Homo sapiens: one gene and its partners. The protein of the gene in region 2 interacts with the protein of the main gene of each other region in a biochemical or structural test. Each region holds a gene or a part of one and is shown on either strand. Other genes may lie near its edges. The genes, in order: IKBKB, NFKBIB, CHUK and DNAJA3.

What was found.
Region 1: of the proteins of NFKBIB (region 2) and IKBKB, one has a biochemical effect on the other in vitro, tested with the Homo sapiens proteins (2 studies listed by BioGRID).
Region 3: of the proteins of NFKBIB (region 2) and CHUK, one has a biochemical effect on the other in vitro, tested with the Homo sapiens proteins (2 studies listed by BioGRID).
Region 4: the proteins of NFKBIB (region 2) and DNAJA3 form a complex in vitro, tested with the Homo sapiens proteins (one study listed by BioGRID).

What each region holds. Positions count from the first base shown.
Region 1 is NC_000008.11:42,305,657-42,309,439, forward strand, and holds part of IKBKB (inhibitor of nuclear factor kappa-B kinase subunit beta), read left to right. Parts: intron 1-686; coding exon 687-776; intron 777-3,244; coding exon 3,245-3,369; intron 3,370-3,783.
Region 2 is NC_000019.10:38,898,515-38,902,790, reverse strand, and holds the start of NFKBIB (NF-kappa-B inhibitor beta), read right to left. Parts: upstream 2,823-4,276; 5' UTR 2,759-2,822; coding exon 2,580-2,758; intron 1-2,579. Other genes in the region: SIRT2 (NAD-dependent protein deacetylase sirtuin-2), read left to right, coding at 3,270-3,285. UniProt on the Homo sapiens protein: Inhibits NF-kappa-B by complexing with and trapping it in the cytoplasm.
Region 3 is NC_000010.11:100,219,400-100,223,182, forward strand, and holds part of CHUK (inhibitor of nuclear factor kappa-B kinase subunit alpha), read right to left. Parts: intron 3,582-3,783; coding exon 3,467-3,581; intron 2,783-3,466; coding exon 2,713-2,782; intron 1,278-2,712; coding exon 1,189-1,277; intron 1-1,188.
Region 4 is NC_000016.10:4,449,851-4,453,633, forward strand, and holds part of DNAJA3 (dnaJ homolog subfamily A member 3, mitochondrial), read left to right. Parts: intron 1-549; coding exon 550-647; intron 648-3,783. UniProt on the Homo sapiens protein: Modulates apoptotic signal transduction or effector structures within the mitochondrial matrix. Affect cytochrome C release from the mitochondria and caspase 3 activation, but not caspase 8 activation.

The DNA of each region.
Region 1 (3,783 bases), on a different chromosome or scaffold from region 2:
GGAAGAGGCACTGGGAGCTGGCCTCTGCTGCCAAGCCTGGTCCAGCCTATAGTTTCCCCAGAGCTCTTTGTGGCCTCCTCAGTGGCCACCCGGCTCAGACGTGGTGTTGACTGCCCCACAAGCTTGACATTGTGGTCTTTACCCACCCACTCTATGTGTTCAGCTGGGGTGGTGAGCACAGGCTCAGCTGAGTGGAATACAGTGAATGAGTTCTTAGATCACCTAATCCCTTCCCATACAGCTGCCCTTAGCACCTAGGCCTGGCCTGTGACTACCACAGGGCTCGCCCTTGTTCCAGTTCACCCTCACTCCTGTCAGTGGTGCTCAGATTTGAGAACTGAGGGCATTTACTGAGAAGAGGCTGGCCCGGTCCTTCCTGTTTCAAGTCTGGGTTTAGCTGTCTTGAGGGCTGGTGCCTGTTCTGTTCATTCAGCTTCCCTCTGATGATGCGTGGCAGAGTGTGGGAGGACACGTGCCTAGCATTTTTACAATATGCCTTTTCTTTTAGCCCTGAATCTACCGTGTCGAGGGCATTCTTTTGTGTATCTGGTGGCTCTTAGGAGTTTGGGATCTAATAGTACCTGGGAATTCAGAAATACCTCTGCTCTAACACCAGGCAGTCAGAATCCTCGTAGAAGGACATTGTGTTCTTATAACCCTCAGCTTTCTCCTTCCTTTTGTTTTAGTTAATACACAAAATTATTGACCTAGGATATGCCAAGGAGCTGGATCAGGGCAGTCTTTGCACATCATTCGTGGGGACCCTGCAGTACCTGGTAAGAAGTGGGCCTTGCCTGTTTGCCTGTCAGCTCCTCCCTGCTGCTGCATTTGTGGGGCTCCTGTCCTGCCTTGCTCCCAGCACCTGAGTCCCACCGGCTCTCTGAATGTTTTGGAGATGCATGAGGTCACACCCATAACCTGGTCGAGTCAGCATTTTTTGCCACCAGATGCCCTGTGGAGGGATGTGGTCGTCTTCTCTGATGTCCGGAGGGCTCTGCTCATGCGCCTTGCACCATCCCCTAGCCTCTCTGTGCTTCAGTGTCTTCTCTGAAAGGAAAGGGTTTTAAACAGATCCATGCTGGTCTTGAGCGGTCCTCCCACCTCAGCCTCCTGAGCAGCTAGGACTACAGGCAGGAGCCACTGAGCCTGGCCGAGGCCACACTTTCCATGAGGTATTTCAGGGGCCACTGAGTAGGGGTCAGAGCTCTGAGCTCCCCACCCTTTGTTTACGTTATTTGGTCTGAATATTAGGTTTCTGTTTGAGTCACTCATTCATTCAAGCATATTGATGGAGTGTAGTCTGTGTCAGGCACTGTGCTCAGGGCTGGTGATGCAGTGGGGAAAAAAGACAAGCCCTTTTCGGCCTTCAGAGCTTAGGGTTTAGCAGGAAAGCAAGCATTACTGTGATGCTTACACAGATAACTAAGAAATTACAGTTGTGGTGAGTGTTACAAAGCAAGAGTGCAGGGTGTTGCAAGAATATATATTGGGTGGCCTCAGCCTGGTCTGGGACTTGAAGGGTAAGGAGGTGAAAAGGGCTGGAGGTGGGGGACGGCAGGGGGAATTCCGTGCAAAGGGATCACACACAGGAAGACCTGCAGGTGTGGCTGGAACCGAGCACAAAAGGGAAAGAGAGTCTTGAGTTGAAGCTGAGAACAAGGTAGAGCACAGATTATGAAGGGCCTTCAGGGCTGGGCTAAAGTTCTAGACTTTATCTTAAAACCTCTGCAGAGATTGATGGGTTTTAAGTGGGAGAAGGAGCAACTCTTTGGAAAGCCCACTCCTGACACTGTGTGGAGAAGGAATCACACTGAACAGGAGGGAAGAGTGGGTGAGGTAGGGGCAGTGAAGATGTAGAGGGCAATTAGATTCCAGGAGGGCTTAGCACAAATGCCCAGCAAGACTTGTCATAGGTTGCTTGATGATGGCAGTAGCCACCACAATTGGGAGTGACTCAAGGAGTCTGCGGCTTTCAGAGTGGGTCTCACAGAGGGCTGTGATTCAGGCGCCTGTGTCCATATGGCATGTGATTTGGTAGATCCTTCTGGAGTCCTCCTCAGCTCAGCAGCAGTCGAGCAAGGGGGACCCCATGCTCTAACCAGGAGCTGAGTCAAGTCATGTACTCACATGAGCTAAAACGTCTGCCCATAACCAGACATAGAGGTTGACCTACCCATCCCGGAATGTCTTCTCTTGGTTTGGTCTCCCGGGCCCTTCCTTAAGCTTCACATTTCCAACCAGACCATGCACCACCCTGTCTCTGTGCTTTTGCTTGCCCCAGTCATTTCTGTCTCCACCCACCTGCTAAGCCCAGTCTGCACCCCCAGCACCCCGTGCTGCCGCCCCTTCTTCGGTCACCCCAGCGCTCTCTGCCTCAGCAGCAGCCATGCATCACACTTTCCCTGCCTGTTTCTAAATATCCTGGCCCTTTCTGCAACCACATGGTACCTGGTTCAGGGGTTCAACCAGCACTTAATGCGTGTATTTGGTGTGGACAGCCTGGCATCATTTTCCTTTAACATTTGTAGCCTCTCTTCCCATTTCTACACAGTGCCCACGACTGTGTCCTGCCTTAAGCTAGTTTTCAATAAGCGCCTGAAATGCTGCAACCCTTTTTTTTTTTTTCCTTTTTTTTCTTTCTTTCTTTCTTTTTTTTTTTTAGACAGAGTCTCACTCTGTTGCCCAGGCTGGAGTGCAGTGGCATGATCTTGGCTCACTGCAACCTCCACTTCCCAGGTTCAAGCGATTCTTGTGCCTCAGCCTCCTGAATAGCTGGGACTAAAGGTGCACACCACCATGCCCAGCTAATTTTTGTATTTTTAGTAGAGACGGGGTTTCACCATGTTGGCCAGGCTGGTCTCAAACTCCTGACCTCAAGTAATGCGCCTACCTCGGCCTCCCAAAGTGCTGGGATTACACGTGTGAGCCACTGCGTCCAGCCTGCAACCCTCAGTTTTAAAGGAGAGAAGTTAAAGCCTAGCGATGGGTGTGTGATGTACTCTGGCCCTGAATCTTTAGCCCCTCCATCAGTACCTACTGGAGTGAGTGGGACATAGAAAGGTCTTAGAAATGGTAGCATGATATACCCGCTAAACATGCCTGGGGTGCCCTCCTCGCCCTGCATGCATGTGCCAGTGCCCTCTAGGATGAAGCCAGGGGTGAAAGCAGATGGGCTGGCCGCCCCCTCCTGCCGTGGTCCCCCCAGAGAGGAGCAGCTCAGGTGTACCCCCTCCTGTTGCTGCAGGCCCCAGAGCTACTGGAGCAGCAGAAGTACACAGTGACCGTCGACTACTGGAGCTTCGGCACCCTGGCCTTTGAGTGCATCACGGGCTTCCGGCCCTTCCTCCCCAACTGGCAGCCCGTGCAGTGGTGAGTGGGCCCGGGGCACCTGGATGGAGGAGGGAGCCTGTCTGTTCCTTTCTCTTCACGTACCCTGTTTCCCTGGCGCCCCATCACCGGGCCTGGGAGATCTGTGTTGTTTCTCTTCCGAGAGGAAGGCCTGTCAGGACCTAGCACGAGTAGGGGAGTGGTCTGTGCTCCAAGGACCTGTTAATAGATAGAGTAGCTGTTAAGTCTTCATGTGGATTCTGAGCCTTCACATCTTTAAATACAATGCTGTGTCAGTGTCATCTGCTCTGTGTTCAGAAGTAAGACTATTGTATGAATATACGCACTTACACTGAGAATGCTGTGTGTTAGTAAACAAATAAAACACGTGTACACATGACAAGTCAGGAGGAAATATGTGAAAATTTGTTGTTGACAAATGTTACTACAACCTGA
Region 2 (4,276 bases):
TACAGTTTCTTTTGACTACTCGACTCTGCTGTGTCAGTGCAAAAGCAGCCACTGACAATATGTAAATGAGTGAGCTTGCTTGCGTTCCAAAAGAACTTTATTTATGGAGCTTGAAATATGAATTTCATACACTTTCACTTGCCATATAATATTATTATTCTTTTGATTTTTAGAAACTGTTTAAAAATGTAAAGACCATTCTTAGCTCACAACCATACAAAAGCCATATAATATTATTATTCTTTTGATTTTTAGAAACTGTTTAAAAATGTAAAGACCATTCTTAGCTCACAACCATACAAAAGCAGATGGCTGGCTAGATTTTGCCTGGAGGCCATAGTTTGCCAACCCCCACCTTAAAGCAACCACTAACATAACAAAAAGAGGAATATCTAATAAGCAAACAAAAGAAATAAAATGAGGCCGGGCGCGGTGGCTCACGCCTGTAATCCCAGCACTTTGGGAAGCCGAGGCGGGCGGATCACAAGGTCAGGAGATCAAGACCACGGTGAAACCCCGTCTCTACTAAAAATACAAAAAAAATTAGCCAGGCGAAGTGGCAGGTGCCTGTAGTCCCAGCTACTCGGGAGGCTGAGGCAGGAGAATGGCATGAACCTGGGAGGCGGAGCTTGCAGTGAGCCGAGATTGCACCACTGCACTCCAGCCTGGGTGACAGAGCGAGACTCCATCTCAAAAAAAAAAAAAGAAATAAAATGAAAAACACTATACAGAAGGAGCAGGATTGAAAAAAAAGTAACAAAAACTATACCCAATAAAAGGCAAAAAGGAGGGAGGAAAAAGAAAACATAGGTAAGTAGAATATATATAATAGACATGGGATAAATTTACACAATCATATCAATATCAAATTAAATGTAAATGGTCTAAACACTAATTAAAAGGCAGAGACTGTCTGGGCACAGTGGTTCATCCCTGTAACCCAGCACTTTGGGAGGCCAAGGTGGGAAGAATGCTTGAGCTCAAGAGTTTGAGACCACAGCTGCACACAGTGGCTCACACCTGTAATCCCAGCACTCTGAGAGGCCACAGCGGGTGGATCACCTGAGGTCAGGAGTTTGAGACCAGCCTGGCCAACATGGTGAAACTGCTGTTGCTACTAAAAATACAAAAATTAGCCAGGTGTGGGGGCACGTGCCTGTAATCCCAAATTTGGGAGGCTGAGGCAGTAGAACTGCTTAAACCCAGGAGTCAGAGGTTTCAGCGAGCAGAGATAGTGCCACTATACTCCAGCCTGGGTGACAGAACAAGACTCTGTCTCAAAAAAAAAAAAAGAGTTTGAGAACATAGGGGGACAAAAAAATTTAAAAATTTGCCAGGCATGGTGGCATGTGCCTGTGGTCCCAGCTACTCAGGAGGCTGAGGTGCAAGGATCACTTGAGCCAGGAGGTTGTGGCTATAGTAAGCCATGATCATGCCACTGCACTCCAGCCTGGGCGACAGAGTGAGACTTCGTTTCAAAAAAAAAAGTCAGAACAGAGACCAATTGAATAGAAAGTAAAAAAAAATTAATGAAACCAAAATTAATTAATGAAATTTAATGAAAATTAACGAGACTATAAAGCTGGTTGAGATCAATATTCAGTGCCTCCTGGATCAGGCCCTGCTTGCATCACTGGGCATACAGCAGTAAACACAACAGACAAAAAACCCAGTACAATCCCTCATCTGGGCCTTTGCAACTGCAGTTCCTTCTCCTTGAAATGCTCTTATCTTGTTTATCTATTGCCTCATTTTCCTGCTTTATTTTTCTCCAAAGTACTTAACTACCTCTGACTTTATTTCCTTTTCTTACTTTCTATGTTTCTTTCTTTCTGCGTGTCTTTCTTTGTTTCTTCCTGTCTTTCCATTTCTTTCCTTCCTTGTGGTCTTATCAATCTGTTTATTTAGCTCCACTAAAATGTATGCTCCACAAGGGCTTAAGTTTTTGTTTGTTTTCTTCACTGCCTTTATCACTAGCACCTAAACGGAGCCTGGAACGTGGTAATGTGTAAAGAATATTTGTTTAACAGATGAATCCTTGGTCTCATGGAGCTAACATTCTTTTTTTTAATTTTCCTATTTTTTTACTTTAATTAGGAATTCAACATAGAAGAGCTTACATTCTCTCTCTTTGAATTTAAGATTTGAAGAACACTGCTCAGAAGACAGGATCTTAGAGTCAGGGACCAAGTATTAATTTCGGAAATCAAACTCTAGGGCTCAAATCGGGAACTAAGAATCAAAGATCATATTTGGAGGTTAGAAGTCAGGAGAAGCCACAGTTCTAACAGAAGTCTCAGGACTGGAGTCAGGTTTGGGTATCAGTGGATACAATGTGGATTCCAGGAGCTGAGAATCATAGTTCAAGAAAAGAAGGTAAGAAATGATTGGGTTAGGATCATAGCTAGATAGAAGATTGGTTTTGTTAAAAGTTAGGACTCGGGGGTTAGAGGTCAGGAAGTTCAGCATCGGAAGTCAGATTTAGGAGTATGAGGTTAGGAAGCCTCAGGGATCAGAGATTAATGAGGAATGTGACGCCGGGTCCTAGGGCTCCGTTTGGCAGCCTAAGGTTCACTCACGTGTCCCCATCCTCAGTGACGTAGCCGAAGACGAGGGGAGCCCACGACAGCCCCGGGCCCAACTCCGCGCCCAACCCAGGTCCTCCGGGGGCCGCTGCGTCCGGACCCAGGGAGCCCAGGCCGCTGTCGCACCATTCATCTGCGTCGGCAGCTTTTCCCAAGCACGCGACCCCAGCCATGGCCCCCGCCGCCTCAGGGGCCCCCCGCAGTCGCCCGCCTGTAGCTGGGCTTTGCCGGGAGTTCTGGAGCTTCCGCCCTGCGGGAAATTCCCCACCACGCCCCCTGATTCACCCAATGATAATATGCTGAATCGCTCACACCCCGCCCTCGTACTGCATCCTGACCAATCAGAGTATTCGGGAGGACTACAACTCTCTAGCCGTTCCCACATTTTCCGGGCGCCCTTTACCAACATGGCTGCTGACGCCACGCCTTCTGGGACTCGTAGTCCGGTCCTCGCGCGCTTTCTTACCTAACTGGGGCGCTCTGGGTGTTGTACGAAAGCGCGTCTGCGGCCGCAATGTCTGCTGAGAGTTGTAGTTCTGTGCCCTATCACGGCCACTCCCATTTCTGGTGCCGTCACGGGACAGAGCAGTCGGTGACAGGACAGAGCAGTCGGTGACGGGACACAGTGGTTGGTGACGGGACAGAGCGGTCGGTGACAGCCTCAAGGGCTTCAGCACCGCGCCCATGGCAGAGCCAGACCGTGAGTCGGGGATCCGGGTAGGAGGGTCGGGCCGCGCCGGGGCCTGGCTGAATGCTGCAGGCCCCGGGGCCCAAGGGTGGCCGCGGTGGGGCGGGAAGTAGGGAGCGCTTCGGGGAGTGGGATTCTGAGGGCTGTTGCTTAGCGATCTGTATCGCTAGGCTGGTGGGTTTCTGGGTCGCAGTGTGTTCAGGGTTCGTTTACCACATCCACTTGCCAAGTTGCCAATGATCGCGTGTTTCTCGCACCTTGGTTGCTAAGGTCCCTCGCTGCAAAGAACATAAGTTGCCCCGGTCCCGCTTGCTATGGGTACCTGATTGTTAGAGGCAACCAGAGGATGCTGAGGGACCCCTGCTGACCCCTCCTATGGCTTCCCCTTGTTCCGCGCCTCTCCTAAACCTACCGCCTCCACTGCACCACTGCACCTCCCTCCTAAACCTGCCTCCCAGCCAAAGCGTCTCTTCCCTTCTCTTTTCCTTTCTAAACTTCCCTCTGCCTTGTAAATCTAACCCTCCCCGCACACACACTCACACACTGTCGTGTCCTTCCTAACTCCTCCTGAGTGTTCCTTCATGCCCTGAATCCCCTAGGTAGGAGGAGGAGGATCGCTTGAGCCCAGGAATTTGAGGCTGCAGTGAGCTATGATCGCACTATTGCACTCCAACCTGGGTGACATGAGCGAGACCCTTTCTCTAAAAAGTAAAAAAGAAAGAAAGTAAGTCAGGGCCAGAAACAATGGCTCATGCTTGTAATCCCAGTACTTTGGGAGGCCAAGGTGGTTGGATCGCTTGAGCCCAGGAGTTCAAGACCAGCCTGGGCAAAAGCCCCTACTTTCTCCCTGTCCCCCTAAATCTTCCTCTCCAGCCTCTCTGCCCCTCACTAATCACCTCTCCCGGCATCACTTTGCATGTAGATAAGATCTTTTCTCCGTCCCCTCCCTCCCTCTGCTCCATTTTTACCACCATCCCATCCCAGTGTAACTAGGTTGGTGGGT
Region 3 (3,783 bases), on a different chromosome or scaffold from region 2:
AAATTTAAAAAGGAAAGACAACAATATCCTTACGAGGCTGTAGACAGGGTAGTGGTGAGGACCTTGGGCTCTGTAATAACACAAAAATATTTCAAGTCTGAGTGCCACCACTTAACTAGGCATGTGATCTACCAAGTTATTTAACCTCTCTCAGTAATCTAATTGGATGACTAACAGTCCCTGCTTCACAGAATTGTTATTAGGATCCAATGAAATAACGAAAGTAAAGAAGGTAACACAGTGCTTGGTACATGGTAAAAATTGAATACAGGTGGGCTATTAATTTTTATTTTACTATATTCAAAATAAGCTCAATCCATTAAACTGGAAAGTAAAGGCAAGGGTGACTTCCAAACTTGAAGAAGCATCATACCTCCTTATAGTAGATTAAATGTGAGTAAATACTTAGATCTAACTTCAGGAATGTCCTGAAGTCTTTGGATTAAAAAAAAAAAAAGCAGAGATATTTGGTGCCAAGCATACGTGAAAGGTTCCTAAGAGAAGAGGCATCACCAAGGTTCCAACACCTCCAAGAGGCCAACAACTATTTTCACTAACTAAAGAGACGGCACACACAACTCAACACAAGGTTCAGACTCTTGGCCTTTAAGTCTTTATTGGAATGAAATTTGGATGCTGGAAACAAGAAAACTGCTTAAGTTACCAATGAAATGAACATTTTAAGAGTCAATTCACAATTTCTGGTTCTTCTCCAGATGACTCATTTAAATTGGGGGAAGGAAAATAAGTTTTAAAAATATATATACTTTCTTTTTTTTCTTAAAGTGGACCCAGGATGTGCATGTATGTGTTTTGGATGTGCTTCATAAGAATAAAATAATAAGTGTTAACATATTATGTATTCACAGCCTGTATCTTTGCTAGATACTATGATGGAAAAACAGACTTGAACAAGACAGGTGAAGTCTAGGAGCTGGGTTAAGTATGAAAAATGAAAAAAAAGAAAAAGAAAAAAAAAGCAGGTGCTGTTCCTTCTCTGATGGAACCACTGTTTAGCAGAAGGGACAAAAAAACTAAACACAAAACTACAGTTCAGTGTGGTGAGGTCTGAAATGGAAAAAGTAAGACTGTTATGGGCATACAGCAAAGACACCAAAGCTCAAGGACTAACTATATCAGAGAGACTATATTCAATAGGCATGAAACATTACTTCAGGTTTCACCTACCTTTCCACCAACATCCTGAAGAACTATGTTTTCAGGTTTTAGATCTCGATGTATAATTTTGTTTTCATGCAAATATCGAATCCCAGACCCTAAATAAAGTTTAAAATATACTTTAAAGTAACAGAAATCATTGAGTTAAAAGAAAAATTCACCTCACATTTTGTACAAATCTACTCTGATGCTCAAGTTTATATGGATCATCGTAACTACACAACTAATACTACAGTGTCCAGGTTTTCTTCACAGAAAAAAAAGTAACATTAAACAAATACTACAAAATTATACTATATGTTCATTTAACTCATTAGAATTAACACCAAATAGAAATGCAACAAGCAATTGGGAAAATCCCTGAAACTCTTATAAGCCTCTTTCTCCCACCTAAATCACTCATTTCAATTGGACTTTAGCCCTCATGACCTTGGAAAAGAGGCAAAACCAAAATCTATGGGGAAACAAATTTTTGGTTTTTGAGGTTCCTCCAAAAGGTTAGGTACTGGTTATTTTAGGAATTTTTCTGGAGTCATTCTGATTAAGCAGAGATTTTTCACCCTGAAGAGTTGACTTGGCTGGGTGCGGTGGCTCACGCTTGTAATCCCAGCACTTTGGGAGGCCGAGGCGGGCAGATCACGAGGTCAGGAGTTTGAGACCAGCCTGGCCAACACAGTGAAACCCCGTCTCTGTTAAAAATACAAAAATTAGCCAGGTGTGATGGCGGGCACCTGTAATCCCAGCTACTCGGGAGGCTGAGGCAGGAGAATCGCTTGAACCTGGGAGGCAGAGGTTACAGTAAGCTGAGATCGCACCACTGCACTCCAGCCTGGGCAACAGAGCTAGACTCCGTCTCAAAACAAACAAACAAAAAAGAGTTGACTTGAGGACCCATCCCTCAAGGAGATGTAATTCCACTGTAAACAAAATTACTATGTCAATGGTAGGGGGGGAGAGAAATTGAGTAAGGTCATTTCACATGATTTTTTTGTCAGCTATTGGAACATCTATTAGACAAAAAAAGGACTCTTAGCCACAAATAAATAATAAAATATCCTAGTTTCTTTTTGTGTGTGTGTGACAAAGTCTCACTCTGTTGTCCAAGCTGGAGTGCAGTGGTGCAATCTCGGCTCACTGCAACCTCTATCTCCTGGGTTCAAGCGATTCTCCTGCCTCAGCCTCCCGAGTAGCTGGGACTACAGGCATGCGGCATTGTGCCCAGCTAATTTTTGTATTTTTAGTAGAGATGGGGTTTCACTATGTTGGCCAGGCTGGTCTTGAACTCCTGACCTTGTGATCCGCCTACCTTGGCCTCCCAAAGTGCTGGGATTACAGGCGTGAGCCACCGCACCTAGCCAAAATATCCTAGTTTTAATTTAGCATCAATAGTAATAGATTTTTATAACTTCTTATAGATGTTGAAATTCTATAGACTTTGTATAGTGTATCAACAATTCTCCTGAATTCCCAAAAAGATCTTTTATGGGCCAAAGGGACATTACATTACAATGGTATTTTAATACTGATACGTACCTATATCACTTAGTAAAGAAAGTATCTGGCTTTCTTTAAGTCCACAACAATTTTCTGGTTTGTTGAGCAGCTAAAAAAAGAAAGAAATCTAAAAATCTGTTCTGCAAATTGCTGGGCTGCAATAGTGACCACACATTAATTACTATACTCTAAAAGAATATTCAAATGAGAAAATAAGTCATAATAAAATACAAGGGAATAAAATTACCAAATCCATACTGAGGGCATGTAAATTTCATGATAAGGCTCATAAAAGTAAAAAGAGGCAAAAAGCATTTGAAACTGGAAAAGGCTGACAAATCTCATGGATATATATAAAAATGGTCATATGGGCACATTTAAAATTAGGTAGAAAAAAAAGATTGCAATACAGAAAACAACTTTTTATAAGCACCTTAACCACTGAAATTTTCATCTAACACCATTGCTATAGTCCCATCAAACAGCAACAACAAAAATGCATTTTCTAAATCAGGAGTCAACATTTTCTGTAAGGAACCATATGGTAAATACTTTAGGTTTTGCAAGTCACATAGTCTCTGTTAAAACTACTCACTTCTGCAGCCATAAGAAAGCAGCCATAGACAATGTGTAAAGAAATGAATGTGGCTGTGTTCCAATAAAACTTTATTTACAAAACAGGAAGCAGACCATAGTTTTTCCGATTCTTATTCTAGTTTATTATATTTAACATGATTCAAACATTGCTAAAGTTTGTGATTTACTCTCTCTCATCTCAAAACATCCACACTACCTTTCGGAGATCTCCTCCAGAACAGTATTCCATTGCTAGAAGAGGCACATCATGAATCAAAATATTCAATTCTTCAGGAACATCACAGGCCTTTACAACATTGGCATGGTTCAACCTAATAAGAAAGAAAAACATTACAATAAAAAAAATTATTTCCAATAAAAAGGGACTGGATTTGAAATGCTACTTAATTGTGGGTGGATGAACAGAGGGGGAAAGATCAGTATTATTTATAATATTCTAATTTCTGATTTGTATAATTAAAAATTAGTAATTTTTTAAAAGAAAACACACATAAAAATACCATCACTATTACT
Region 4 (3,783 bases), on a different chromosome or scaffold from region 2:
GGTGGAGTTCAGTGGTGCAATCTCCACCTCCCAGATTTAAGCAATTCTCCTGCCTCAGCCTCCCAAGTAGCTGGGACTATAGGCATGTGCCGCCACGCCCAGCTAATTTTTGTATTTTCAGTAGAGACGGGGTTTCACCTTGTTGGCCAGGATGGTCTCTATCTCCTGACCTTGTGATCCGCCCACCTTGGCCTCCCAAAATGCTGGGATTACAGGCATGAGCCACTGCGCCTGGCCTAATTAGATAATTTCTTACTTGCTTCACATACACACTGGTAAAATCTGTTTCCCCTCCTGTAAACTGTATTTAGCATAGCCACAGTGACACTTGTTTAAATGACTTAGTGTAGGGTGTTTTAGGAGCTTTTCTGTACAGAAGCTTTGAGGGCATGGTCCTTAGGTTCTCACCGCTGCACTGGCTCAGGGTGTCCGCCCCTGCCAAGGTTGGGTCCCTCTCTTCCCATGTGCTGCGAGGGTGCTGGCTGCCTGTGAGTTCTTTCCAAAGCTTCCCGGCGGAAGCCTTGGCTGCTGACTCTGCTCGGTCCACAGGAGGCTAACGAGCCGGCAGCAGAGCCTGATCCTGAGCTACGCCGAGGACGAGACAGATGTGGAGGGGACGGTGAACGGCGTCACCCTCACCAGCTCTGGTAAGGAGTCTGAAGACTACATGGTGACACGTGGGGGCCTCAGAGCCCCCCAGGGTATGGACAATTCAGGGCAGCATGTTGGGGTTTCCACTTCGGGTTCTTCATGAAGCCTTTAAAATGTGCAGTTGAAAGAGGGGGGCTGTGGGCGGGGACAGCGGGCAGGGAGCCGCAGCCCCCAGTCCAAGCTTCGCCTCCTCTCTCTGTGTGTGTTTCTGTGCTGAGGTGAGAGCACCAGGGCACTTCCTGCAGGCAGCTCTGCGTGTCTCAGACCCAGTGTTCTGAGTTCTATTCTTGGTTCTGCCACTTGCCCTGTGACCTCGGACAAATCCTTCCCTGAGAGCTCCTGGCAAAAGCGTAAGGAGAGAGCATGGATTGGAAGGATTTGTGCACTTCCCACCTGGGACACTCCGCCAGGATTTCAGAGTGTCTTAAAACAACAGCAGCCACAGCAGTGGAGCCGCAGTCAGCAGACTCCGTCCGCCGCTTTAGAGCAGGACTCCCTCCAAGTTATCTAGCCGTGAACAGATGCACCATTTACCCTGAGCTCAGACATCGTGCTAGCGAGTGGCTGTGTTAGGGATCTGTCACCAGAACACCTGCTGTGGGCGCTGAGACAATGGCACCCCAGCTGCAGCCCCTCTTCCCATGGGGTCTGGGGCCTCTTTCCTGGGACTCCTGGCTCAGGGCAGGGCAGGCTGTGCCCAGGGGTCCTTGGTTCAGGCGGCATGTATTTCCTCCTCATTGCATCATTTTGTTTTTGTTTGGATCCTGGGTGGAGTTCTCAGAACTTGAGCAGCCTTAGATTAGTGCATGGTAATTCGTAGCAGGTGTTTGGAGCTGGGGGCCGATTTTCCAATAAAGTGGAGGATTTGGAGCTCCAGGGGCAGGGGCAGGGGCTGGGATGGAAGTCCCTGGAATTTCACTGAGCTCCTGTTGCTCCCAGGGGACTGGAATTCCTCTGTTAAAAAGCAGCTGCCGGCCGGGCGCAGTGGCTCTTGCCTGTAATCCCAGCACTTTGGGAGGCAGGGGCAGGTGGATCACTTGAAGTCAGGAGTTTGAGACCAGCCTGGACAGCATGGCGAAACCCCATCCCTACTAAAAATACAAAAATTAGCTGGGTATGGTGGTGCATGCCTGTAATCTCAGCTACTCAGGACGCTGAGGCAGGAGAATCGCTTGAACCCAGGAGGCAGAGGATGCAGTGAGCCAAGACCACACCACTGCACTCCAGCTTGGGTGACAGTGAGACTCTCTGAAAAAAAAAAAAAAAAAAAAAAAAAGGGCCTGGCGCGGTGGCTCACGCCTGTAATCCTAGCACTTTGGGACGCCGAGGAGGGTGGATCACGAGGTCAGGAGTTTGAGACCAGCCTGACCAACATGGTGAAACCCTGTCTCTACTAAAAAAAAAAAAAAAATACAAAAACTAGCGGGGCATGGTGGTGGGCATCCATAATCCCAGCTACTCTGGAGGCTGAGGCAGGATAATTGCTTGAATCCAGGAGGCAGAGGGTGCAGTGAGCCAAGATTGCACCACTGCACTACAGCCTGGGTGACATAGCGAGACTCTGTCTCAAAAAAACAACAACAAAAAAGCAGCTGCCACAAAACTCTGTAGCCCAACCAGGTTCCAAATGTCACTTATTTTAATGGTTTGGTACATATACTGTGTATATGTATACTATCTTTTGTTCTTGTTGTATCTCTTGAACTAAAATAGAAGTGGTAATAGAGTAGCTATTCCCCGGAACTCTAATCAGTGCACCTGTGGCTTCTCCTTCCTCAAACCCTACAATCACATAACATGCGAGATTGGTTCCATAGACAGCTGTCCTTCCCTCCTCCCGCCCATCAGGGTAGCTTGAGGTGTGCTACGGCCGGGCCCTGGGTGGGTTCGTGGGTGTTGCTTACTCTGTTGGAGGTTGGGTATTACTGGTCACCAGTTGATGTTTTGACCCTCTCTCTGATACTGTAAGTTGAAAGTTGATTCCGCCACCCACTGAGATCCTTTGTCACTTCCATGGTTACTTGTCCTGATCACTCAGCCTCACTCAGCTGTTCCCTCACTCAGCCAGGATGTCTTCTCCTGTGTGCAAGACACTGTCAGCTCTTCCTTTTAAAGATCTTGGTGAGGCCGGATGCAGCGGCTCACACCTATAATCCCAGCACTTTGGGCGGCTAATGCAGGAAGATCACTTGAACCCAGGAGTTCGAGACCAGCCTGGGCAATATAGCGAGACTCTGTCTCTACAAAAAATTTCAAAACTAGCCAGGTGCAAAGTAGTATGCACCTCTATCACCAGCTACTTGGGAAGCTGAGATGAGAAGATCACTTGAGCCTTAGTACTCAAGGCTGCGGTGAGTCATGACAGCGACACTGTACTCCAGCCTGGGTGCCAGGGCAAGACTCTGTCCCTAAGCATACACCGTCACATGTCAGTCTGCTGCCTGTGGGTGGTTAAGTCTCTCATTATACTGTGAAGACAGTTAGTTTTGCATCCACATATGACAGTATTACAGGACATATAATTCTCATGTCCTAAGAACTTAAGCAACAGTGGGATTTATTTATTTATTTGAGGCAGAGTCTTGCTCTGTGGCCCAGCCTGGAGTGCAGTGGTGCAGTCATAGCTCACGGCAGCCTCAAACTCCTGGACTCAAGTGATCCTCCCACCTTGGCCTCCCAGAGTGTTGGAATTACAGACATGAGCCACTGTGCCTGACCAGCATAGTTTTTGATGCGTTTAGTATCTTAATGTAGCTGCTGAAAACCTTAAGAGCTGACCCCGGTCTCCCAGAAAGACCATGGTGTGCTTAGAGACTCAGCACTTGCAGGGATAAACAGGTCCATCTTCTGGCGAACAGAGAGGGAACTGGGGGGGCTTGCAATTACTATGTGACTTTTTGAGTGAGAGACACAGTATGGCTCCTTGTTGTTCTTTTTTTTTTTTTCTTTTTTTGGAGACGGAGTCTCACTCTGTCACCCGGGCCGGAGTGCAGTGGCGTGATCTCGGCTCACTGCAACGCACTCTGCCTCTTGGGTTCAACCAATTCTGCCTCAGCCTCCCGAGTAGCTGGGACTACAGGTGCATGCCGCCCCTGGCTAATTTTTTGTATTTTAGTAGAGATGGGTTTCACC